6 separate regions of the Homo sapiens genome follow, and regions 2, 3, 4, 5 and 6 are each reported to be linked to region 1. Evidence: microRNA targets listed by miRTarBase, many of them from high-throughput screens and not tested one by one. Region 1 holds a microRNA gene; each other region holds the end of a gene's coding sequence. Distances are from middle to middle.

The links. Region 1 holds the annotated microRNA hsa-miR-455-3p (GCAGUCCAUGGGCAUAUACAC, at 2,247-2,267, shown strand). A microRNA usually pairs through its seed, bases 2 to 8, with sites in the 3' UTR of a target mRNA and lowers its output. Matches are read on the target gene's strand: a 7mer-m8 pairs with bases 2 to 8, a 7mer-A1 pairs with bases 2 to 7 and ends in A, and an 8mer does both.
Region 2: the mRNA of ADGRL2 is a reported target of hsa-miR-455-3p. The part of its 3' UTR that is shown has no 7-base or 8-base seed match.
Region 3: the mRNA of HERC1 is a reported target of hsa-miR-455-3p. The part of its 3' UTR that is shown has no 7-base or 8-base seed match.
Region 4: the mRNA of RANBP6 is a reported target of hsa-miR-455-3p. The part of its 3' UTR that is shown has no 7-base or 8-base seed match.
Region 5: the mRNA of PRPS1 is a reported target of hsa-miR-455-3p. The part of its 3' UTR that is shown has no 7-base or 8-base seed match.
Region 6: the mRNA of BLOC1S4 is a reported target of hsa-miR-455-3p. The part of its 3' UTR that is shown has no 7-base or 8-base seed match.

Annotation. Positions count from the first base shown.
Region 1 is chr9:114,207,241-114,211,346 of GRCh38, forward strand. It overlaps MIR455 (microRNA 455), which reads left to right and starts at 2,194; the gene lies at 2,194-2,289. It overlaps COL27A1 (collagen type XXVII alpha 1 chain), which reads left to right. Exons shown (of 61, transcript NM_032888.4): 11 at 2,435-2,488; 12 at 3,742-3,786.
Region 2 is chr1:81,990,856-81,994,961 of GRCh38, reverse strand. It overlaps ADGRL2 (adhesion G protein-coupled receptor L2), which reads right to left. Exons shown (of 24, transcript NM_001366006.2): 24 at 1,030-4,106. The coding sequence ends at 3,817. Among named protein-coding and RNA genes, the nearest start is that of ADGRL2, 190 kb to the right of the region's middle.
Region 3 is chr15:63,605,223-63,609,328 of GRCh38, forward strand. It overlaps HERC1 (HECT and RLD domain containing E3 ubiquitin protein ligase family member 1), which reads right to left. Exons shown (of 78, transcript NM_003922.4): 78 at 3,396-4,044. The coding sequence ends at 3,859. It also overlaps a transcript of FBXL22 not described here. Among named protein-coding and RNA genes, the nearest start is that of USP3-AS1, 6.4 kb to the left of the region's middle.
Region 4 is chr9:6,008,387-6,012,492 of GRCh38, reverse strand. It overlaps RANBP6 (RAN binding protein 6), which reads left to right. Exons shown (of 1, transcript NM_012416.4): 1 at 1-1,468. The coding sequence ends at 203. It overlaps BRD10 (bromodomain containing 10), which reads left to right and starts at 4,011. Exons shown (of 8, transcript NM_001017969.3): 1 at 4,011-4,106. RefSeq lists a silencer at 3,944-4,106 and an enhancer at 3,981-4,106.
Region 5 is chrX:107,649,210-107,653,315 of GRCh38, forward strand. PRPS1 (phosphoribosyl pyrophosphate synthetase 1) reads left to right here. Exons shown (of 7, transcript NM_002764.4): 7 at 731-1,817. The coding sequence ends at 823. Among named protein-coding and RNA genes, the nearest start is that of PRPS1, 23 kb to the left of the region's middle.
Region 6 is chr4:6,716,561-6,720,560 of GRCh38, forward strand. BLOC1S4 (biogenesis of lysosomal organelles complex 1 subunit 4) reads left to right here. Exons shown (of 1, transcript NM_018366.3): 1 at 1-1,104. The coding sequence ends at 303. Among named protein-coding and RNA genes, the nearest start is that of BLOC1S4, 2.4 kb to the left of the region's middle. RefSeq lists an enhancer at 16-655.

The sequences.
Region 1 (4,106 bases):
CAGTCTCAGCCCTAATCCCTGCAGCTGACTGGTGGCTGTTAGGAGAGTGTGGGGAGGCGGGAGTGGGGGCGGGGAGGTGCATTCCCCAGGAGGTTACTGTGACAGGCAGGGCCTAAGGAGGCTCTTGTCCCAGGGTGCTGTGCCTCTCTTCCTTTATTCTGCTGCTCCCATGGGCCATTCCCCCAGAGGGACCCCCTAAACCCAAGGAGAAAGGTCTTCTCAGTCCAGCCCCAGTCCTGATCTCCTGACCTGCCAGAAGGACAGGCATGTTAATGACATCTGGGGTTGCTCGACTTGCCTGCCAGGCTGGTGGCATCTCAAAGTCACATAGCAGGAGAGGACTGGTCTGGCCCCAGCACTCCTGTCTCTTACAGGCCACACAGCCCTGGGTGGGAAGCCTGGATGAGCAGTGAGTCACTCAAGCTGCCCTTCCAACCCTGCCACCACCAGCCTCATATTTCTGAAGTAGGCAGAGGGCAGGCTTTGGAATCAGGATGACAGGCTTTGAGACCTGCCCTGCCATTAGCTAGCTGTGGGAGCTTGGGCAAGTCACTGGGCCTCTCTGAGCCAATTATTTTCTCACCTGTAAATCTGGGAGATAAGCACTATTTGGAATGGCAGTAAATGGCACTCTTTCAGATTATGGATATTAATCATGCTGGATGCCAACGAGGAGGCTCAGTGGCTTCTTGGCCTTCCAGGGAAGGAGAGATGGTTGTGAGCCTCCATTGGTTGCTTGTTTGAGGAGAGGCAGTATGCAGAGTGGTTAGGAGCCCAGGCCCAGGAGTCAGAAGACTTGAATTTGAATACCAGTTCTACCACATTTCAGCTGTTTGGTCCTAGGCAAGTTGCTTCACCCCTCTGGGCCTAAATGGTCTTACCTCTACAGGGGGCTGAGTAATAATACTTCCTCAGGGCTGGGCGCGGTGGCTCGTGCCTGTAATCCCAGCATTTTGGGAGGCCAAGGCGGGTGGATCACCTGAGGCCAGGAGTTCGAGACCAGCCTGGTCAACATAGCGAAACCCCGTCTCTACTAAAGTAACTACAAAAATTAGCTGGGCGTGGTGGTGCACACCTGTGATCACCTGTGATCAGCTATTCAGGAGACTGAGGCAGGAGAATCGCTTGAACCCGGTAAGCAGAGGTTGCAGTAAGCCACGATCGCACCACTGCACTCCAGCCTGGATGACAGAGCAAGACTCCGTCTCAAAAAATATATATAAATAAAAAAATAATAAAATATAATACTTCCTCGGGGTGTGATAAGGATGGAATAAATGCTTTAATATATGCAAAGCACTGGCAGCAGGCCTGGCCTATCATTCGTGCTCAATAAACATTAGCTTTTGTTAGAGTTATTATTAAATCATTCCACCAAGAGTGGCACGCAGATAGTGGTAGAAGCCCCGGGCGAGGTTACTGCCCTTTAGAAGTTCCCAGGCTAATGAGGACGTGAAGCATGAACACAAATAATGAAGATACAAGGGAGAAAGTGGAGAAGGATGCTACCGAGGTGCAAAAATGGCACTGGGGATGGGGGGGAGAGATTGCTTCCGGCTTGGGGTATCAGGGATGCTTGCCCAAGGAGAGCGCTTATGAGAGCTGGGCTTTGAAGGATTTGGCTCAGAAGTCATGAGGGATGGGAAGGACATGCCTGGTGGAGGGGACAGAGTGAGGAAAGGCTGGGAGGGAGGAAATGAGATGCATCCTAGGGAAGAGCCCCAGAATGGTGACGAGCCCCAGCTGTGGAGTCAGCTGGCCCTGGGTGACCCTTGAACTGATTAGGAATTCCCGAAGAGAATTCACAGCTCCACTACTGACTAGTCGTGTTGCTTTATCTACAGAGCCTCAGTTTCTTTGTCTGTCCAGTGTGGGTGGTGACAATCTGGGGGGTCCTTGTGAGAGTCTAATGTGGTAGCATGCATGTGCCTGGCACAATGTTGGCACTCCGGGTTCGCAGCCGCTGTTAGTTAATGCCAGCACTCAGGCGGCCAGAGGTGGATGTAAGCCCTACATCCAGGACCTTGAAGGCCTAGGAGGAGCCATGGCAGGAGCCACGGGCACCTACCAGCATCCCTGGGGGTGGGCAGGGCTTGGTGCCGTGCTAGCATCTAACCCAGCCGCGAGCTTCCTTCTGCAGGTCCTGGAGCCCTGGCGTGGGGCGGGCCTCCTGCCGGCGAGCGCCTGCGCCCTTCCCTGGCGTGAGGGTATGTGCCTTTGGACTACATCGTGGAAGCCAGCACCATGCAGTCCATGGGCATATACACTTGCCTCAAGGCCTATGTCATCGAGGAGCCACCGGAGCTGCCACTGCCACCAGGGAGGAAGAGGAGGAGCCGGGATGTGGGATGGCAGTGGTGGGTGGGCTGCGGCAGGTTGGGCCAGCCACACCTCACTGCTTGACCGCTCTGACCCCCTTTCTTCTCTTTCCTAGGGCTACATTGGGCTCCCAGGGCTCTTCGGCCTGCCAGGGTCTGATGGAGAACGAGTAAGTTTGCTTCTTTGGTTATTCACCATCCACAGCCACCCCTGCCCAAACAGAGCAGAACCTGCCAGGCACCAGCCTGGGGAAGTCAAGGAATTCCTCCTGGAGGAGGTGCACTTGAGTCGAGTAGGAGTCTGATAAGGGGACAAGTCAAGGCAGATGCATTCCAGGCATAGGGAACAGCATGTGCGAAGTCAGGGATTTACGGTAACTTGGCGAGTTTAACACTCAACACTGCCAAAGTGCTGCGTGAGAGGGTGAGAGTGGTGGGAGTTGAGGCTGGAGAGGACCCTGGGGCAATGTCTTAGGTGCCCAGGACTAAGGTTAGAAAAGGAACTCTGTTCTGAGGGTATGCGGAGCCTCTTGAGGACTTGCAACCAATGAACACCGGGCCCACTTTATAATATAGATCAGGGGTCTGCAAACGGTGGCCCATGGGCCAAATCCAGCCAGTTGTCTGTTTTTGCAAACAGTTTTATTGAACTCAGCCTTGCTCATTTGGTTACATATTGTCAATGCCGCTTTCTCACTACAATGGCAGAGTTGAGTAGGTGTGACAGAGACCGTATGGCCCACAGAGCCAAAGATATTCACTATCTGCCCCTTTCCAGAAACCATCTGCTGATTCCTCTTTTAGACAGATCAGTTGGTTTACTTGAGTAAAATGTGTTGGTTGGGGGTGGGGACAGCAAGAGCAGGTGGCAGGAGTTCCAGCAGCCAGGGGGAGCGGCTGTCTGGGGAAGGTGGTGGGACTGGTTTGGTGGTGGGCAGTGGGTGCTAAGATTTCCTAAGACACCCTGTCCTTCCAGACCAAGTATCTAAGTCAGAGGAGTCCAAAAGATGGTGTGGGAGCTTCTCACAGACCCCTGGCCCAGCCTGGAGGTCCATTAGAAGCCCCTGGGGTGGTGGCCTCGGGATCTTCCTCCCCGCCCCCTCCCAACCTGAGCCCGTATCTATGGGAACTCACTTGTAACCTCCATAAGCTGGGTATAGAGAACCTTAGGACAGCTGGAGCCTGAGCATTTATGAAGCACCTGCTGATTACAGGAACTGGCATTTCTCTGTCTCTTAGGTCACCACAGACCCCGACCCTGCCATCCGTCTGATGTGCATGTCACTGGGGCCGCCACGCAAGTGGCACACATTCCAGGCCCTCTGTGACTTCCTGCCGTGGGTGGCTCTGGGCTGGTTTGGGGCAAGCCTGGCTGTCCCTGCTGGCATCCTGCCCTGACCTCTCCCCTGTCTCTCCCCTGCAGGGCCTGCCTGGCGTTCCTGGCAAGAGGGGCAAGATGGGTATGCCGGTAAAGATTTTCCGTGTCTATTACGCAGACTCTAGCGGGGAACCCCACCTCCCACGGCCACGCTGCCCTGGCCACCTGCTGCCTGGCATCTTCTGCTTCTCCCCCTGCTTTGAGTGTGGGGGCCGCATGTGGGGTTGTCTGGCCACAGGACCTGCTGCTGGCACACGGCGTGACTGGGGCCTGGCTGGGGCTGGGGCTTCCATGGGCTCTGGACCCCTCTGGGGTAGCTCCTGTCTCCCTGTGGGCATCAGTGGCTCTCCAGTGCAGTTCTGTGTCTGGGGGCTTCTGTCTAAGGTATTTGTGTCTGTGGGTCTGCTGTG
Region 2 (4,106 bases), not on the chromosome of region 1:
TGCTTCCAGTCTCCCTATACATGCTGTTTAAGGACTACTCCCAATCAACTTGGTGCTCACTAGCAGGAAGCATACGATATGGCATTTTCACCAAAAAAAAAAAAAACACAAAACTAATTTTATTATGCTGAGAAGTAATTCTCATCTACATTCAACACGCCAGTAACTTTCCATACTGACATTTGAGATTTAATGAAATAATTTCGGGGAAAGAGAATTAGCTGGAACACAGGATTGTGTAAACTCTAGGTACTAAGCTTTATTTGTAAAATACTGCAGGAAGGACTGCCTTTAAAGATATCAGTATGGAGAAAATACAAAGAGCTATTTTCATTTCAAAAATTCAACTAGTGTGAATTTCTCCAAGTTTTTCTACTTAGAAGGTTGTAACTTACTGAGTTAAAATTGTTTACAAAACTCCCTGTCCCACAAGAGGACATTAAAAGGTCAGTTTTAAGCTTGAGGTTCAATGTTGAATTGAAGGAAAGATACATTTTCTCTTTTCTCATTGAAATAAATACATAAAGCATAGTAAATACATCCATAAAACAAGTGCATGTTAATTTTTTTTTGAAATTTAGCAATAAATTTGTGCATGATGCTTCTCTTCTTTTTGGGGAGAAGACAGTGATTTTCTGTCAAATAATGTTTTACTGGTTAAAATATTATATGTCACTGCCCTCAAATGTGGATGAGTGGAAATCGAGGACATATTTAAGTGATTTATAGATTTGTATGGATTCTCTTCCACATAAATGAATATAAACACCTCTAAGACAAAAATATATAAATGGATAAACTATAAGTGGGTCTTGTGTGTGTGTGTGTTTTGCAAATAGAACGGCCTTTTTTAAAAAACAAGAGGTCAATCTGGACTAACCTGTAACAAGTCACATATAAAACAAATGTACACAAACATCCTTATTATGAATAGACTAATGCTGGGCGCAGTGACTCACACCTCTAATCCCAACACTTTGAGGGGCCCAACTGGGAGGACTGCTTGAGACCAGGAGTTGGAGACCAGTCTGGCCAACAAGATAACGTTTATTATTATTATTATTATTTTTAATAAAGACAGAGTGAATGTCTCTAGGAAGAACTTTAAAAATGTGACTTTATAAGTTCACAGTTGTGACTATCACAAAGAGAAACAATCAAGAATGTGAAAACTGTACATTCAGGTGAAGTCTAGGCAGACCCAAAGAAACTGGGTTAATAAATACAATAACGCATCTGCATTAAAACAGTCAGTAGTTTAGTAATTACAAACCTAAGAAACTACCTTGTACTAAGGGAATCCTAGATGGAATTTAAGGCAATATTTATATATTTTTGAAAAGAAATGCTTTAAAAATGACTTTTCTTTTGATGCCAAAGATCAATGATGGCTTCCAAATTGAATCCATAGGATAAAGACGTTAGAGAACAGTAGCCATTTAGGTACGATGCAGTGTTCATGTCTTTAGAGTTTTGAGAACTGCCTCAAGAGAAAGAAATAGGACTAACTGAATAATCAGTGTTGCCTTTAAAAAAATTTATTACTGAACCAGCCTGACTCTAGGTAGCTTGTATACTAGGAATTACACATCACACAATACTGTATGGTTTTAGGCATTTAAAATAAAAAGTATAACAAGATGGAAAATTAAAAATACTTGATTATCTAATGCCCTCCTTTAGCAAGTAGTTTATAAATCCCTGAAGAATTTTAGCCAAATAAATGAGTACCATTCTCAGAGGATTGTTAAATCTGTTTGAGAACCTGGGAGGCGGAGGTTGCAGTGAGCCGAGATCACACTACTGCACTCCAGCCTGGGTGACAGAGGGACACTCTGTCCCAAAAAAAAAAAAAAAAAAAAAAAAAAAAAAAATATATATATATATATATATATATATATATGTATATTATATATATGCACTTAATTTTTAAATCTCATTCCTTTTTAAATTCAATAGGCATGTGTGTGTCCACATAAAAGTGATTTATAAGCTAGTGGTAGTATTTGAGAATTATAGCAAACCATTAAGCTTTAGAATAATTTTCTATAAATGCTTATGATACAAACAGAAAACATCTATTTCTTGATATTCAATTATATGATTTTTGAACTTGGAGTAAAACTTTTCCAGGGTAATGTATATTGGTATTCACAGCTGTCTATAGGGATATTTATAATCCTTAAAGTATGTTTAAGAAACTTCCCAATACTGCTGAAAAATCAGTTAAAAACTTTTTATGATACCCAAATTTGATGGCAGAACTTCCAATCCTTCTTTTTTTAGTCCTGGTACAATGCAACAAACAAAAATGCTTTCAGAATATATCCCTCTTAAAACTTATCCAGCAGATTTTGTGCATATGTAGTGGGCAATTGGAAGACATATATTCCTTTCAGCATAAAGAACAAACAGGCAACTTAATTGTATCCTTTCATATATCCATGGACTTTGGTATGACGTTACTTAAACCAAGGTGGGAATGGACCAACATGTTAAAGCCAATTATGTATCATACATAAAAGTTCACATGTTAACTACTTGAAAAAATTCACATTTATTTACTGTCAAACCGTGTTAAACTTTACACTGGATATTAGTGATGGGCTCATTATTAACAGGTTTACACAAAGGGATGAAAAAAAAGCAGAATTTTGCTGAAACAATTTACATTTCATTAGAACTTTATCATAAAATAAATTAATTACTAAATATAGGCAGAAGGAATATGGAAGAGTAATATTTATGTTTTATTTTATTTTTTTAAAAAAGAATAGGCACCTTTTGTTCACTAGAAAGTTTGTGAGAAGTGCCCAGTGCCCTCTTTGCCCTCTGTTCAAGAATAAACAGGGGTGACACACAATCTTTTCTAGATTTCATCACTTTTGTGCAAGGCATGACATAACTGGCTTCAAAGAGTTTGTTTCTCCCCATAAAACACGTTCTTTTGGCAATAAGAAATTTAAATGTAAGTAATAAAGACCAACTTTGTCAAAGCAGAACACTGTATACAGTGGAAAAGAAGTGAAAATGAGTAGAACTTACCATGACAAAGTGTAAGAAAAAACATTTCATAACATGTGCAACCAAGAGCTTTTCACAATATTTTCTTCACTCTTTAAAATTATTTTAATGACAATTATATTTCAGTTGGACACAAATGTATTTATTTTACCCTAGCAATAGAACAAAATATAATTTCTTTAGCCATTTTTCATGAGAATAGTTCATTGTACAGTTGAGGAAACATATGAAATAAGGCCTGTGGCTTGATTGCTAGTGGTTAAGCATGTTTTCAATCTTTGCCTTAATGTAAAAGATTTGCAGTGAACTGCAAACTGATGCAGAATATCTCTCCTGCTTTTCCAAGTCTTGTCAGGAATAGTAAGGTACAGTAAATTTGTCCCACAGGATTTTAAAGCCTACGTCTTGTATATAATACAATGCAGGCCTACAAAAATGGTGCAGCCATATTTACAAATTTAGTTCACAGACTGCTGCAGTAAAATGGCTGGAAAGTTTTGTTTTGCTTGTTTCACAATTTCTCTAAACAGCAGCAGAATCTTAAAATACCTGGCTGGCATCTCTTTTCTTTGTAACAAATAATTCACTTTAGTATACTCTGTGTATATACAAAGTTTTTGTATGTTTTATAAAAATTCACAGAACTGCAAGGTTCAGTCATCTTTTTTACACCAGAGAACCACAGGTCAAGAGTCATCTCTTCAAGCAGAGTTTGAGGGAGCTGCGTCAGGCCAATGGTGTCTTTATTTATTAATACTCGCATGTGGCCCTTGGAATTCCTTAGCTGTATGATTAAAGACTTGTAACCAGCTGCATTTGTCCTTCTCTAACATCTCCTTCTGGAATACACCCTTCTTTGTTAATGGGGATTATATAACCATCACTATTGCCCCTGCTGATCTGGTAGCACATCTGAAGCTGATGGCCAGCTCCAAGATTTGGCATGCTTTTATAGTAAATGTCCTCATTCTCACTCCTCCTGGAGGGAGAGAGGTCTTCTTCCATGTCAGGGCTGCTCTCCGGATAGGGAGAGTCTCTAAGATTGGGCATGCTTGTATAAAGAGAGTCTCTGTTGGGGGACT
Region 3 (4,106 bases), not on the chromosome of region 1:
GCCCTAGTTAGAAGACATGCAGCTGAGGTTGAGGGGGTGTTCTTGAGTGATCTCCAAGCTTTGCCATTCATAGCTTTTGACGAGATATGACCTCTCTGAGCCTCCGTTTCTTTATTTGTAAAATGGGACCAATACCCTCTTGGGACTGGGGGATAGGGGGAGGTATCCTCATATCCTTGGGGGGCTAGAAAAGCTGAGTGCCTGGCACAACACACAAATCCCAGGCACTGGGAAGAAGCAAGCCAGGTCTATCTGTGGGTAAGCCAGGCACCCTTTGTGGCAGACAGAGCTTTTGAGCTGGGCCACAGGTTCCAACCGTTAAGGAGAATATTTCCATTGGCAGGCATGGCACAGCAAAGGCAAAGGTCAAGAAGCCCAAGGCATATCCAGGGAAGGGGTGAGCCAGGGCTGATGGAAGCCTGATTGTATTCCCGAGCCACCCAGAAATGGTTTGGGATTATCTATGCCCTCACAGCCTCTATTAGATCATAGACATCCCTCAACTCCTGCAATGCTAACTCTTTCTAAGGTTTGGCCAAGGCAGCGAATGGTCACTTGCAGGTGAAGGTGGTGGGAGAGAACAGAACCTCACCACTGGGGCAGGACACTGCTCCCTGGCTGAAGGCTGACCTGTCACCACGTTGCACTGGTCTGCATAGGAGCCCCAGTGCCGGCAGAGAGACCAGGGCCACAGGCTCTTAGGTCAGGGTTCCAGATCTCCCCCAGGAGGCAGCAGGCTGCTAGCAGGAGGTGGTGCTCTGAGGCTTGTCTTACAGAGACACACTGGCCTGTTTCTGCACAGGATGAGTGTTCGGAGGGGAAGTGACTGAGCCACCCCGGCTCTACCACGGCACGCTGACAGGAAGCAGAGGCTCCCAGTTCTAGTCGGGGCACACCTATGATCCAACTTTCCCTCTCCTGACCTTGGATTCTTGGTTTATAAAGGCAGAGATCATCTGACCCCTTAGAGACTTTCCCTCCAGCTCTAGGATTCAATGCCCAAGATCTGCTTTTGGCTAAAAACCAAGCTCACAAGATGTGGGCTTCATCCGGCCAGAAGTCCTGGGCAAAGGCCACAAAGCTAGGAGGCCCAGAACAAAGCCATACTTTGAAGGATGTCTGGAGAAATCTTAAATTTTAAAAACTGATGGTCAACGTTTGCTTGAGGCTGCTTAAGGGTCATAAAAACTGCAAGTATCTGTTAAGTGAATGAGGCCAGCAAACAACTGCCTAAGCCTCTCTAAGAGCTGAAAGTAAACCAAGGGAAGCACCTGCACCAGGCCCACTTCAGCTCCTCAGATCAGGGACTTGTGCTTCCCCCTTTCCAGAGTTTTCAAAAAGTCAAGAGAGGCCGGGCACAGTGGCTCATGTGTGTAATCCCAGCACTTTGGGAGATCAAGGTGGAAGGACTGCTTGAGGCCAGGAGTTCCAGACTAGCCTGGGCAACATAGTGAGACCCTGTCTCTGCAAAAATGAAAACATAGTCAAGACAATGAGGAAATAACAGTTTCTGGCAACGAAACAGTGTGTGTTATAAAATCATGGCACTGTGCAGATTCCCCTCACAGGGTCAAACCTGAGCTGCTGTCTGTTAGCCCTGAGCCCAGGACCTGCAACCATGAGTGCCAGCCTTCTGGGGGTCCTCCTGCCCCCGAGTCCAGAGCAAACTGTGGCAGCAGCACAGGGTGAGGCATTATTTTGAATTTAGAGACTGCAGAGGTATCCTTTGCTCTGCATGTCCTCAGCCCAGCTCAGCAAGAGGGACGCAGGAAGCGGCTCAGAAGACCCTAAGAGGCCTCTCCTGGATTCGTCCAGGATCTTGGCAGCACAGATGCTTTTTTTTTTTTTTTTCTCACTCTGTCGCCCAGGCTAGAGTGCAGTGGCGCGATCTTGGCTCACTGCAAGCTCTGCCTCTCGGGTTCATGCCATTCTCCTGCCTCAGCCTCCTGAGTAGCTGGGACTACAGGTGCCCACCACCATGCCCAGCTAATTTTTTTTATTTTTAGTAGAGACGGGGTTTCACCATGTTAGCTAGGATGGTCTCGATCTCCTGACCTTGTGATCCACCCGCCTCGGCCTCCCAAAGTGCTGGGATTACAGGCGTGAGCCTTTCTTTTCTTAAATTCTCTCCTGGTCCAGAGGCCCAGGCAGGGCCTTCCCACCCCGAGCAGGAGGGCTTCAAGCCCAAAGCCCTTCAACGATGCTACTGACTGCGCTCTTAGATCGGTATTAAAGCCTCATCTTTACCCAGAACTCCTGGGGTTCCCCCCAAAGCTGGAGTCTCTCCCTGAGACCCAATTCTAGTTGAAGCCTTTTTTCAATAAAACGAAGATGTCATCATTCTAAATATTATTAGGTATTCTCACTAAGAAAGATCCATTTACCACATTATCTTAGCTGGCAAAACCTTATTTTTCTTTTAATTTCTCTTTGAAGACATACACCTATCTTCCTTGTGGAAAATAACTGCCTGCAGAGGGCTGTCTGTCTGGCACCTCATTTGAGCAGGCTGTCGGCAAAGACCCTGTCCGCGAAGTACAGTGGAAGTAGCCTGTGGCATGAACTTGCTGTAGGTGAGGGAGACAAGCTGTCCACAGGCCTTCCCCTCTTCCTGCACACACTCCAAGAGGCCAAAGCCCTCCCAGCTGCTCTCAAGATGGCCCTTTCCCCCAGAAACACAGGCTCACCCTGATGCTGCTGAACACACACACAGCACTCAGGGCCCGCAGGGGCTAGCTGAGTTTGAGCACCAAGAATGTAACCCCTTCCCCAGACCTCTGCACAATTCTATCATTCAAGGATATGAAAGCCACTCATCAGTTCTCATGCTAATTCACACATTCACTCACTCATTCACTCATTGATACATGCTAAGTGCCTGCTAGCAGTTGCTGGCCTTTCTGTAACACCTTCCACTTGGCTGCCCTCCCCACTGAGACATGTTGTAAACTACCCTGTTCTTTAATTCCATCACGTGCTCATTTTGTCTTTGTAGGTTCTTCATAGGAAGGGCCAGATGGCATTACTGTGGTCCTCTTCCTCCTTGTCTGGTAGAGTCGCCCTCCACATGAGGTAGCTGGGGCTGTCCAGAGAAGGATGCGTGGTACTGAGAGGGGCGGAGCAGCTGAGGGAACAAAGTCAGAGAGACCCAGGATGACAGAAGAACAATGGAAAATAGGGGCTTCCAACCCAGAGGGATCTCCTAGAACCACACGGTTCTCTGATACGTTATTTCCAAGTGAAGCCCACCCTCAATGTAAAGAAATGTTTCTGAATGGGTCAAAAAGCCATCAGAGCAAGACCAGCCTGGAAGCTCATTCTGTTCTGGGCTAATGTCTGCCTCGATGGTAACCCCTAGTCAGAAGCTCCGCAGGAAGCAATACCAAGAGCCACGCTCCAATTCCTGAATCTGCTTTATTTCTCTGCATAAGGAACCCTGAACAGGCAATTCAAATTAAAACAAAATAAATATATGAATATTCATGTAAAACTGTCCTTTCTAATGAACAATTATACACAATGTACAATTTCATGTTCACTGGGTGGATTTACAAAAATGTACCATTCCCAACTAAAAATGCACCAAAATGGTTTCATGCAAACTTATCAAAAGTGACCAAAAATATGGAGGGAAAAACCTGACTGAGAGCACTTCGTTTTTGTTGTTTTTGTACAATCACAGAAAAATAAAAACATCTAATTTCTTTGTTACATTTAGAGTAACTAAATGTGGCCATTGTTTATAATGTTGGTTTATGTTCTTATAACATCTATGTAGTTACCATAAAAGTATATCAACATCAAATCAGAAGTGAGCATTATTGAGGGAGAGAAGGGAGGGTGAGAGCACCCGCACGGTCAGTAGTCAGTGTCGGAGCCCTCGGCGTTGTCCACGTTTCTCGAGAGCATGTAGTTGTCCATGTCGATTGAGCGGCAGTTGTTGATGGCATAGCGCAGGCGCTCGGCCATGACCAGCTGGCTGGAGTACGGGGGCAGCCTCAGCTGGAAGAAGCAGGTCTGTGAGGTAGGCAGACTGTCGTAAGGCTGTGGAGAGAGACCCAGAGCCGTGACTGGGGACATCAGAGTGCCATAAGGGGGAGTGGGGC
Region 4 (4,106 bases), 110 Mb from region 1:
ATAATTCCAATCTTCCCAAAATAATCAGTATAATTGCAGAAGGAAAAATTAATGAGACTATTAACTATGAGGATCCTTGTGCCAAACGCCTAGCTAATGTCGTGCGTCAGGTACAGACTTCTGAAGATTTATGGTTGGAATGTGTATCACAACTTGATGATGAACAGCAGGAAGCCTTACAGGAGTTGCTAAATTTTGCTTGAAGCACTTTAATATAACTTGAATATTATCTATTATAAAAGTAACTACAAATAAGTGTTGTGAATAGATTTTATTATAAATCAGAGAACTGTTTTCTCCCTGCTAAGCAGTTTATAGTTCTTCTCCATGTTTCTCCAGAATTAATCAGTGTTAGTCCTCTGTTTATCTCGCATGTTTTATCTTCCAAACACAGACCTTGGTGATAACCTGTGCTTCAAACTGTCTTAAACAATGTTTGTCACCTTTCCCCTAGTTGATGTAAAGTATATAAATTGTTGCTATTTGTTTGAACTATTATTGATGCTAGCCAAGCAGTATACTTGATGTGAAGATGTCATGCTATCACAATATGCTAAGAGCTCACAAAAATAAGATAGAATTTCCAGGACAAACATCTTTGGAATTGTGAGTGAAGGATATAGTGGCAGGCTTGTCCCTCTTTAATTAATACTCTTGGTATTTGTGGTGATGGGAGGATGCTGTTACTAGGAGAGTTTTGAGATACTGCAGTGGATGTGGGATGTATATGAACTTCTTCATAATGTACTCCTGGGAACTGGGTAGGACATATCCATATTGTAGTTCCCAAGGTGTCTGGTTGAGAGTTAGAGAACTTTTAAATTTCTTTAGCCAGACAGGTCTCTATTTTTTTAAGTTATCCAGGACTCCAAGAACCATAGTTACTGAAAAGGGAGTCCTGATACATCTAATATTGGTAGCATGTAACAGTGTTTGACAAAGAGTAAGTAAGCAGTATTCTTGGGAGTCAGTGTTATGTGTTTCAGCAGAGTATTATTTTGTATATGTATGCCATTTTCTCCCTGCAAAGCAGCTCAACAAGAGAAAAAGCTCTAGTTATAGGGCTTAAATTGATTTCTATTTCAAATAATTTCCTAAGAGATTCTAGAGTAGAACTGAAGAGTATTCTATTGGAAAAGTGAAAGGAAAGAAATGTAATTTTCTTTGAACATGAAAAAGAAAACAACTTTGAGAGTAGTCATTTAGCAGTAGATGTGCATTATTATGAGAAAACAGTTCTATAAGTCCAGGGTTAATTATATTAATTGGAATGTCAGTCTTTAATGTCGAGCTTATTGTAGGGTAGAAAAGAGCTTTCTACTCAGCTAACGATTACTCATTGATCCAAAACTTAAATACATCTATAATTTCCTGGGGCTATTGTGAGTACTGTGTATGTATTTAGCAAATATTTAAGACCTAGTAAGTGCTCAATAAATTGTAGCTGTTATTGCTGTTGTTGTTTGTACCTCTATTGTGTCTGGAACTTCTTTTACTTTAGAATTTTCCCAATCCATTCCCTACTCATTCATATTGGCAGGCTATTTAGGCTATTGTTGACAAGAATATAAAGTTGAGATTTTAGATATGCAATTCTGTCCATTCCATGTAATTATTACTAATGGGGGAAAAAGGAAAATTAAGGACATTATGTATAGTATGATCACAATTTTTAGTATATTTAAGATAAATAAAGTATAGAAGAATGAATAGAAAAATCCCACCTCAAAGTATTAATAGAGGTTTTCTCTAGGTGGTAGGATTAAGTGGCAAATTTTCTCCTCACTTACCTATATTTTCTAATTTACCTACATACCTACAACCAACATATTTCTTGTTTTGTTTGTTTGTTTTGAGATGTAGTTTTGCTCTTGTTGCCCAAGCTGGAGTGCAATGGCACGATCTCGGCTCACTGCAACCTCCGCCTCCCAGGTTCAAGCAATTCTGCCTCAGCTTCCCGAGTAGCTGGGATTACAGGTGCGCACCACCACTCCCAGCTAATTTTTTGTATTCTTAGTAGAAACGGGGTTTCACCATGTTAGCCAGGCTGGTCTAGAACTCCTGACCTCAGGTGATCTGTCCACCTCAGCCTCCCAAAGTGCAGGGATTACAGGTGTCAGCCACCGTGCCCAGCCCATATTTCTTGTGTAATAGAGTTTCTTTTTTAAGATCAAGGACCCGATCCTACTTTCATTATAGTTAAGTTGCTATCATCTTGACCTCTTCATAACCTAGAGTTGAGGTTCCTTCTACTCACCCACACCTTTCTCTTTTATATAATCTTAATTAAGAAACCCTTTATCAACATTTCTAGCAATTCCCTACACTTTTATGTATGAGGAATTAGAAATTCTGCCAGATGACTTGGAATTAGGCACCTGGAGTTTTTGAAGTATGACAGACCTAGATTTTAACTTTGTTTAACAACTTTCTTAAACTAAGAGGCAGTTTCCTCATCTGAAAAATAAGGTTAATACCTAGCTGATAGGCTTGTTGTGAGATTAAAGGAGACAATGAATATAAAGTGCTTAGTGGCACAGGGTTCAATAATGTAAGCTAATATTGTCCAAGAGTCATGAAATAGAGCTGATGACTAAAGAGGAGTAGAGGATGTTTGCTTGGGTACGTTGGGCTTCAGATTCCTGGGCTTTGTCGAAAGAAAGGAGGAATGTCTAGTCAGACACACGTTTTGGTTGCCAGGTGCTGAAGTAAGACTGATCCCTGCATTTTTCTTTCTGTGAGCTGAGGTTCTGTGGACTCTTCAGAGTCCACAGACTCTTCTCTGAGGGGAGAGAACCCTGTAAATGCGTTATATATTACAAATGTCTGATGAGAGGAGACCTCGAATACTAGATAAAAGGTATGTGTGGAGGACAGTGTGAATACCCTAACAGAGCGTTCCCGCTTCACTATTTTACTTAAGAGTGATACTTAACTTACTGGACAAAAACAGCTTTGAGGTTAAAAAAAAATTTTATCACTGCTTTAAAGTTCACATTAATGAGAAGTAAACAATTGCAAGAGTCAGAGTATCCTAATCATTTAGTTATACACATTTTACTTTTAAAATGCATGATTTCTGTAATTTTGTTTTTGTGTTTAGGTAATTCTAGGTTTTAACGAGGGTTCTGTGTACCTAGAAAAAATAATATGTGCGTCTTTCAAATAGAACATGAGGAAATAGTAGTATTTGCTTTATGGAACCATGAATTCCTACCTCCCAACTAATTTTAAGTAACATGTAAACCAATGTGAATGATGAGTCCACTTTTTAGTCATTAAACAGTAATTGTAAAATGTAGTGAGATTATCAGCCCATGCAAACAACTGTTTAATGCTGTACAACTCAGACATGAACTATTTTGACTGTTTTCAGTCCCAAGAATTTGTTTAAATGAGGTTCCATTCTCTTTATTCTTAACAGATCTCAAGAATCGGGAGGGTGGAAATTTGTAACTGAAAACATGGAATTAGTTCCAAAATATGAATTGATGTTAAGAGCTGGGGTTCTAAAAATCACTTCCTTTTCTTCTGCATGTGAACGTATGGTCGAGTCCTTAAACTTTCTTTCTAAACTTCTCAAAATTCTGGTTATATATAGAAGACCCGCAGTCACAAGGGAGAAAGGGTGGGAACAGAATGTAAATTTTATAGTAGAGAAGATTTACATTTTGCGCTTTCTCACTATTCATTTGCCATTAACAAAGGTTATCTAGCAACTTTAATTTTAGTTTGGGGGGCTAACACGGGTCTTGCAAAAGAAGTTTCCTCTTGAAGCACTTGCTTTAAAAAAAGCCTTTTGGCCACCTTCCCAGGCGGTAGCGAATTAAGCTGCGCAGGCGCCTTGCTTCCCCCTCCATCAACATGTTCGATTGGCCTACGATTGATTACATCATTGGTCCGCGCAACCCTAGCAGGCTTCTGGGCCTGTAGCTGAGCCGAAGCTCTTCCTTTTGCGTAGCGGGGCGGGGCACGATGGTGGCGGGGGGGGAGGGGGGAATTGTTCTACTACGCATGCGCACCGGGGATGGCGACAGGGCCTCTTTCTTTGCTTCTCTCCACAGCTCTTCCCAGCCGGGGGGCTGAGTGCCCTCCCCCTTCTCTCC
Region 5 (4,106 bases), not on the chromosome of region 1:
AAGTAGCTGGGACTACAGGCATACACCACAACCACGCCTGGCTAATTTTTGTTTTATTGTAGAGACAGAGTTTCACCATATTGCCCAGGCTGGACTCAAACTCCTGGGCTCAAGTGATCCTCCCACCTTGGCCTCCCAAAGTGCTGGGATTACAGGTGTGAGCCACAGTGCCCAGCCATTTTGATGAACCAAAGTCAGCGTTTTTTCTCAGTTAGCATTTTGACTCTTTCCTAAGTGGCTGTTTTGTTTTGTTTTGTTGTTTTGAGACAGAGTCTCGCTCTGTCACCCAGGCTGGAGTGCAGTGGCACGATCTTGGCTCACCGCAACCTCCACCTCCCAGGTTCAAGCAATTCTCATGCCTCAGCCTCCCGAGTAGCTGGGATTACAGGCGTGTGCCACACCATGCTTGGTTAATTTTTGTATTTTTAGTAGAGACGGGGTTTCATCATGTTGGCCAGCCTGGTCTCCAACTCCTGGCCTCAAGTGATCTGCCCACCTTGGCCTCCCAAAGTGCAGGGATTAACAGGTGTGAGCCACCGTGCCCAGCCGTAAGTGGCTATCTTAAAAATGTTATGAAGAATAGCTGAGTGCAGCCTCATGACAGGGAAACAGCACAGTGTTGCAGTTTTAAGAGGAAGGGCACTTGCCTGGCTGCTCATCAGTGTCTGCAAATTGGCCAGTCATCTCTGACCATATGATAGTAACCTGATTTCCTTTCTTGCCTTTCTAGGTGATTGACATCTCTATGATCCTTGCAGAAGCCATCAGGAGAACTCACAATGGAGAATCCGTTTCTTACCTATTCAGCCATGTCCCTTTATAATAGAGTAACTTCTGAGGCTTTTTGAGAATAAAATCCACCCCACCCTTGTTTCCCCTTGGTATTTGATGACAAATTCAGCAGAAGACCCGGCTTGCTCCAGTGTAGCTTTCTACATCCCACATCAGGTATATTAGAGCTTATCCGAACTGGGGAAAGACGGATTGAGATTAACTGCTGGGACCTCCTACCTGCATTATCTCATTCTGGCTTCCTTGATAATTCTGTGGGCCTTGCAGCTTTAACTATAGCTCAGCTGCTGCAAGATTTCAGACTTTTGAGGATGTTGTGTGAGGGTGTTTGACTGTGACTGGGGAAGCTCAGACTACTTTGTATGTGAATGCTTCAGGGTTTTCTTTGTTGAGAACAACTAGCAACAAAGGCAACCCATGTGTGACCAGTTCTCCCCAAGGTCTATGCTAAATTATAGCAAGAGCCCTGGGCAACCCCAAACCTAGTCCTGGTAGCTGAGCACCCTGTAAGGCAGGAGCAGGCAGCTCAGCTTGAGCAGACATTGGGTGGGGGGTGGGGGGTGGTTGAGGGGGGAGGCAGCACAGTGCAGCAAATGTTTCTTGGGAGGAAGAAGCCTGATCCATCACCATCTGCTTGACTATGTAGCTTGGATTCTCCTTTGTACCTATCCCTTTCGATTTGGCTTTACCTTCATCTATCTTGATCCTTTCCTGGCCAAATATCCTCTTGGGCCCAAATGAACATTGTACCATAGTCTTCTGGAAAGCAAACATGCTTCCTGCTATGTAATTGCTAACATTCATATTAGATGATGTGCTGTAGCTTGATCTTCCTTAGCCTACTGCCACTGAGGCAGTAGGTTTTAGGTGGTATCGTAGTGCCTTTTGATTAATTTAAGTATTTAATTTTCATCTTCCTTCTTTGGATCTATTTGGCCTCTCAAATGAACTGAGATTCCTGTTAAAAAAGATTGATGTTATTGTCTCTTGTAGAGGAAACTAATAAAGTGTGTGTACCTGTGTGATTTGGGGTCTGTATCATACATAATCTGTACTGATCTCTCTGCTAAAGGTTTGGTTTAGATAGATGTCTTGCTGTCCATTGATAGCTCTTATTTGTTTCCAAACTACGTTAGCTTCATTGTTAAACCAAGAGAAGACATTGGCAGCAGTTTTATTCAACTGTAAGACTAAGATGTCTGGAGTTTACTGAGAATGTGATAAGAGTGTAATTCTGTGCAGTATACCTAAATTATAGCATGTATAATGTCTGGTGGATCTCTGGTTCTTACTCCTGAAGATCCAAATTAGGTATTTTCTTATGGGAGGAGAATTTCTGTGATTTATTCATTTTGAACTAATTTTGCCAAATGTGATAATTTCCTTCCATTCATCAGTAATTGACATACGTTTGGCATTTACTTTCTTTGTTTTTTTTGATTTTTTGGTTTTTTTTTGAGATGGAGTTTCGCTCTTGTTGCCCAGGCTGGAGTGCAATGGTGCAATCTTGGCTCACTGCAACCTCCGCCTCCCGGGTTCAAGCAATTCTCCTGCTCAGCCTCCTGAGTAGCTAGAATTTATAGGCATGTGCCACCATGCCCAGCTAATTTTATATTTTTAGTAGAGACAGGGTTTCACCATGTTGGTCAGGCTGGTCTTGAACTCCTGACCTCAGGTGATCTGCCCGCCTCAGCCTCCCAAAGTGCTGGGATTACAGGTGTGAGCCACTGGTGCCCGGCTGGGCATTTACTTTCATCCCTGCTAAATAAGAACTATTTTGAGAAGGTAAATGTGCAAAATTTAAGGATGAATTATTATGCATTCCAAAATTTTAAGTTTCCTTCTTTCTTTCCTTTTTTTTCTCTTTCTTTCTTTCCCTTTAGCTCTCTCTTTCTTCATTTCTTTCTTTTCTTTCCTTCCTTCTCTTTCTCTCTCTGTCTGTCTGTCTGTCTTTCTTTCTGTCTTTCATCTTTCTCTTGCTCTGTCACCCAGGCTGGAGTGCAGTGGCTCGATCTTGGCTCACTGCAACCTCCACCTCCTGGATTCAAGTGATTCTCCTGCCTCAGCCTCGAGAGGGATTACAGGTTATCTGGGATTACAGGTGTGCACCATCACACCTAGCTAATTTTTGTATTTTTAGTAGAGACAGGGTTTTGCCATGTTGCTCAGTCTGGTCTCAAACTCCTGGCCTCAAGTGATCCGCCCACCTTGGCCTCACAGAGTGCTCGGATTACAGGCATGAGCCACCATGGCGGCCTTAAGTGAGTGAGTTTCTTGGCCCATCATCAAATAAGGGTGCTCTTTTACTTTGGGAAGCTACATGGCTACAGAGCTTCATGAAGAGTGCTTCCTTATTTGTGAAGCCCAGGTCTACTTTTGTTTATTTTGTTTTTGCTTTTGTTGGATATCGGGATATCTATTTTACAGCTAGCTCTTTGATAAAAGTGATTCAGGAGGGACTAAAGTATACTATGAAATGTGCGCCTCTAACCCTCTAGACCTCTTTAATCTCAGATTTTTGCTCTGGGAGAAGCTGATGTGAAGCACCAATGCCTTCACTTGCTCATCATGCTATTTCCTAAAGTATTGGATCAGTGGGTCAGGTCTCATTGTTACAGAATATTTTGACATTAAGATCTCTCTTGTGGGCCCCTTTGGGTAATTCATTTCCTAGGATGAGGTTTTGAGATTATTCAAAAAAGGCCCAGTCCCCAACTTTGATCCCTTTCAAAGCAGTTGTTTTTTGTTTTTGTTGTTTTTGTTTTTTGAGACAGAGCATCGCTCTGTTGCTCAGGCTGGAGTGCAGTGGCACGATCTCGGCTTACTGCAACCTCCGCCTCCCGGATTCATGTGATTTTCCTGCCTCAGCCTCCCAAGTAGCTGGCTAATTTTTGTATTTTTAGTAGAGATGGTGTTTTACCATGTTGTCCAGGCTGGTCTCGGACTCTCGACCTCAGGTGATCCACCCGCCTCAGCCTCCCAAAGTGCTGGGATTACAGGCATGAGCCACGGTGCCTAGCCTCAAAGCAGTTCTTGACTGTGGGGAATAGTAGCAGGAGCAGACCTGCCAGGGCATGAGGAGGAGGCAGCACCAAAGCTAAGTGGAGTTGCAGCGAGCACAGTTGACAAGAAACTCTAGTTGTGATAGCTACATGATTGCCCTTGAACACCTGTCTGAAGAATGGAGGTACAGACTAAAGCAGGGGTAGGAGGCTGGCTCTGTTTCCTGACCTAATGTAATGGCTGCTTTTCACACACAGAATGTGTTTACTCAACATCTCTATGAGTGGTGGTCCCCAGGGCAGTAATGCAAA
Region 6 (4,000 bases), not on the chromosome of region 1:
GTGCCGCGCATCCACGCGAAGGCCGCCGAGATGCGGCGCATCTACAGCAGGATCGACCGGCTGGAGGCCTTCGTGAGGATGGTGGGGGGCCGCGTGGCCAGGATGGAGGAGCAGGTCACCAAGGCCGAGGCCGAGCTGGGCACCTTCCCCAGGGCGTTCAAGAAGCTCCTGCACACGATGAACGTGCCCTCGCTCTTTAGCAAGTCTGCTCCCTCGAGGCCACAGCAAGCCGGCTACGAAGCCCCCGTCCTGTTTCGGACCGAAGACTACTTCCCTTGTTGCAGTGAAAGGCCTCAGCTCTGACGGCCTGACCACTGCGGCAAGAGGACCCCAGCTGGGGTGCTTACCTCCAGTATGAAGTGAATTGCAAATCCTGCTTATGGACATATATGATGTTGGAGTGTGGGATTTTAAAGTTTACTTTCTACAAACTCTCCGTAGTATATTCATGATTCAGTGTAGAATGTATAGACTTTATGTCTTCCAAGTTTAAAAAAAGAGACAGGGTCTTGGTATGTTGCCCAGACTGTTCGGAAACTCCTGGGCTCAAGTGATCCTTCCACCTCAGCCTCCCCAGTAGCTGGGACTACGGGGTCGCCACTGCACCCAGCCTGTGTCTTCCAGCTCTAATCAGAAAGCTGCTTGTCGAGGGCATGGGGAATCAAACTGAATGAACTTTTCTCTGCACTGTGGCAAAACTGTTATTTTTATGGATTTTACTAAATGGCGTTACCTTTTCAAGATTTATATGTTTGTATAATCATAAGAAAATTGAGCCATTAAAGCCTTGTTATTCAATCCTAATAGTCAGTTTTCTAGAACCTACTTTTAGGGTAAATGGTACATTATTTAATATTATATTAAACCTCCTATAGCGTGGATTGTAGACCAAAGGAAATGGTACAATTTCTGAGAATATATGTTGATTTTTTGTGACTAATTCCAAAGTTGTATTTGAAAGTATGACCTCACAGTCTTCATTTGTCCATAGCAAACATATGTGTGTGTGTGTGTATATATATATGTGGGTTGCCAATGTTTGGTTTATAATTTAAATGTTAATAGAAATTTTGAGTTTTATTGGAAATGATTTCCTTCTGAAAAGAGCTTTACGTATTTCCTTGTGTGTGTTTGAAATAGACGTACTGCTCATGTGCTTTTTTAGTAGTGGGATAAAGAAAAGGGGCTTGAGTATACCTCCTTTAGAGAGCTAATGTGAAAAGCTGTAGCTTCTATTTCAGAGCATGGTATATTTCTTTTCTTTTTTTTTTTTTTTTTTTTTTTTGAGACGGAGTCATGCTCTGTCGCCCAGGCTGGAGTGCAGTGGCGCAATCTCGGCCCACTGCAAGCTCCGCCTCCCGCGTTCACGCCATTCTCCTGCCTCAGCCTCCTGAGTAGCTGGGACTACAGGCGCCTGCCACCATGCCCGGCTAATTTTTTTTGTATTTTGTATTTTTTTTTAGTAGAGACGGGTTTTCACTGTGTTAGCCAGGATGGTCTCGATCCCCTGACCTCGTGATCCACCTGCCTCGGCCTCCCAAAGTGCTGAGATTACAGGCGTGAGCCACCGCGCCCGTCCAGAGCATGGTATATTTCTTTCCTCTCGAAATGGATAGTTAAATTATTTGTGTGAGTGAATGGTATTAGGATTTTCCTGCGGATACAGTAGACTTTTATTGAGATTCAAATCTATTTTATAAGGTGGCCCTCCTAAATAGTAGATGCTAAAAAAGCATACAGCTTAGGTTGCTTTTGTGTCATTTGCAGTGTCATCAAAGATCTTTGAGGTTCATAGAGTAGCTGTATTTTCATTTAGCTGTGTGTTGTGAAGAATCTGATCATGTAATCTTGCACCTAGCTTTCGTGGACCTTCATTGTCACATATTTACGTTTTTTATTCAGGTGGTTCATTGACGACAAATTAAGGAACTCTGAATGTAGAAGCTGAAAGAACAAGTAACCTACATTTAATATTCAGCAACTGCTGGTACCCCTATAAGTAATTCATGTGTTTCGATGACATAGTCACTGAATATGAAAATATCCTTACATAACAAAACATTGCTAAAAGATTTTTCACTTAAAGTTAACATTCAAAAGCAGTAATTAGGGGCCGGGCGCGGTAGTTCACAAGCACTTTGAGAGGCTGAGGCAGGCGGATCACAAGGTCAGGAGATCGAGACCATCCTGGCTAACATGGTGAAACCCTGTCTACTAAAAATACAAAAAAAAAAAAAAAAAATTAGCCAGGCATGGTGGTGGGCGCCTGTGGTCCCAGCTACTCAGGAGGCTGTGGCGGGAAAATGGTGTGAACCCGGGAGTCGGAGCGGAGATGACGCCACTGCACTCCAGCCGGGGCGACAGAGCAAGACTCTGTCTGAAAAAAAAGAAAAAAGAACTAATATCCACCTATCCACCTTGGCACTCCCACAATGCATATTCCCAGTGCTCTGTCCATCCCCACTGCTACCCAACCCATCCAAGCCACTGGCATCTCTCCTGGGCCACTCAACAGCCTCTTAAGTGGTCTCCTGCTTCCCCTTCCCCGCTCCAAGCCACTCCCGCATGTAACACATCAGCCAAAGGGGTCTTTAAACAACATAAATCAGACATATTGGGCTTTGCCTAAAGCTCTCATTAGCTTCTCTTCATATTAGAATAAAGCCCAATTTCTGTTCTCTGGCTTGAGGTGGCTCCTGCCCCCTTGCTCACTCCCCTGCAGCCTTCCCTTGACCTCGAAAGATGCCCCATAGCATCTTTCATATGAGGATATGGAAAGGGGACATATGAACTGTCCCCTTCATAGCGCTTGTTACAGTTTGTGAAATGTGTTTGTGTCATTATCTGATGACTGTCTGCCTTACTCACCTGGAGTAACAAGTGGATGTTAGCTGCATCCACTTGGCTGCATGCTCAGCAAGCAGGTAGCACATCCCTGGTACACTCACATATCTGTGCAATAAGCGATTGTCAGAGTGACTGAGTGAATGAACGACTACACAAAATGTAGGCACTCCATAAGGAATGCGAGACAGAAAGGCAGACAGGAGAATTCAGTCAGACTAAGGGCTGGCTCAGAAATCAAGCACCATGGGAAGACTAGGACACAAAGAAAAACAAGATGTGATTCTTTCCCAAGAGCTGGGCAGGCCAGTGGGTGAGAAAGTCAGACGCCCAATCCAGTTGAGTCCAACCTAAGGTTCAGTCAAACACCACACAGACATTCCCGTGGGCTCCAATGGGGCTTTGTTCCTAATCGTGCCCTGGGATGTTGATACAGAACTTACAAAACTATCCTTCTAAGAAGACTCCTTTTATGTGCTGAGAAGTTATCCAGATTCAGGCACAGTGGCTCATGCCTGTATTCCCAGGGCTTTGGGAGGCCTAGGCCAGAGGATCACTGGAGGCCAGAAGTTCGAGGCCAGCCTGGGCAACATAGTGAGACCCCGGCTCTACTAAAAATACAAAAATTAGCCAGGCACGGTGGCTCGTGCCTTGTAGTCCCAGCTACTCAGGAGGCTGAGGCAGGAGGATCACTTGAGCCCAGGAGTTCAAGGCTGCAGTGAGCTGTGATCACGCTACTGTCCTCCAACCTGGGTAACAGAGCAAAACCCTGTCTCAAAAAAAAAAAAATTAATTTAATTAAAAAAACCACAAACCACCATTTCCCAAAGTGACTGAAACCATTTGACCCACTAATGGAGAATGAGAGCGTCTCCTCTATACTGTTCATGGTCCAAGGGAAGCAAGGGTTCCAGCGGTCGGGTGTGAGCCCGTGGGAGGGAACTTGGTCATCAGGAAGGATGCGAGGACCCTCTGGCTGTGGGGTGTGGGGTCCGCGGTGGCTGCAGAGACTGGTCCCCCCACACCAGGGGGCGCTGCAGGAGCGGGAAAGGCCTGAAAACAGCTGGTCCAGCCCCTGTCCTCGGGAAACTAAAGCCTTATATCCTGCCACGGTCACTGGGCACTGGAAATTCAGAGCCCCAAGATCCTGTCCATG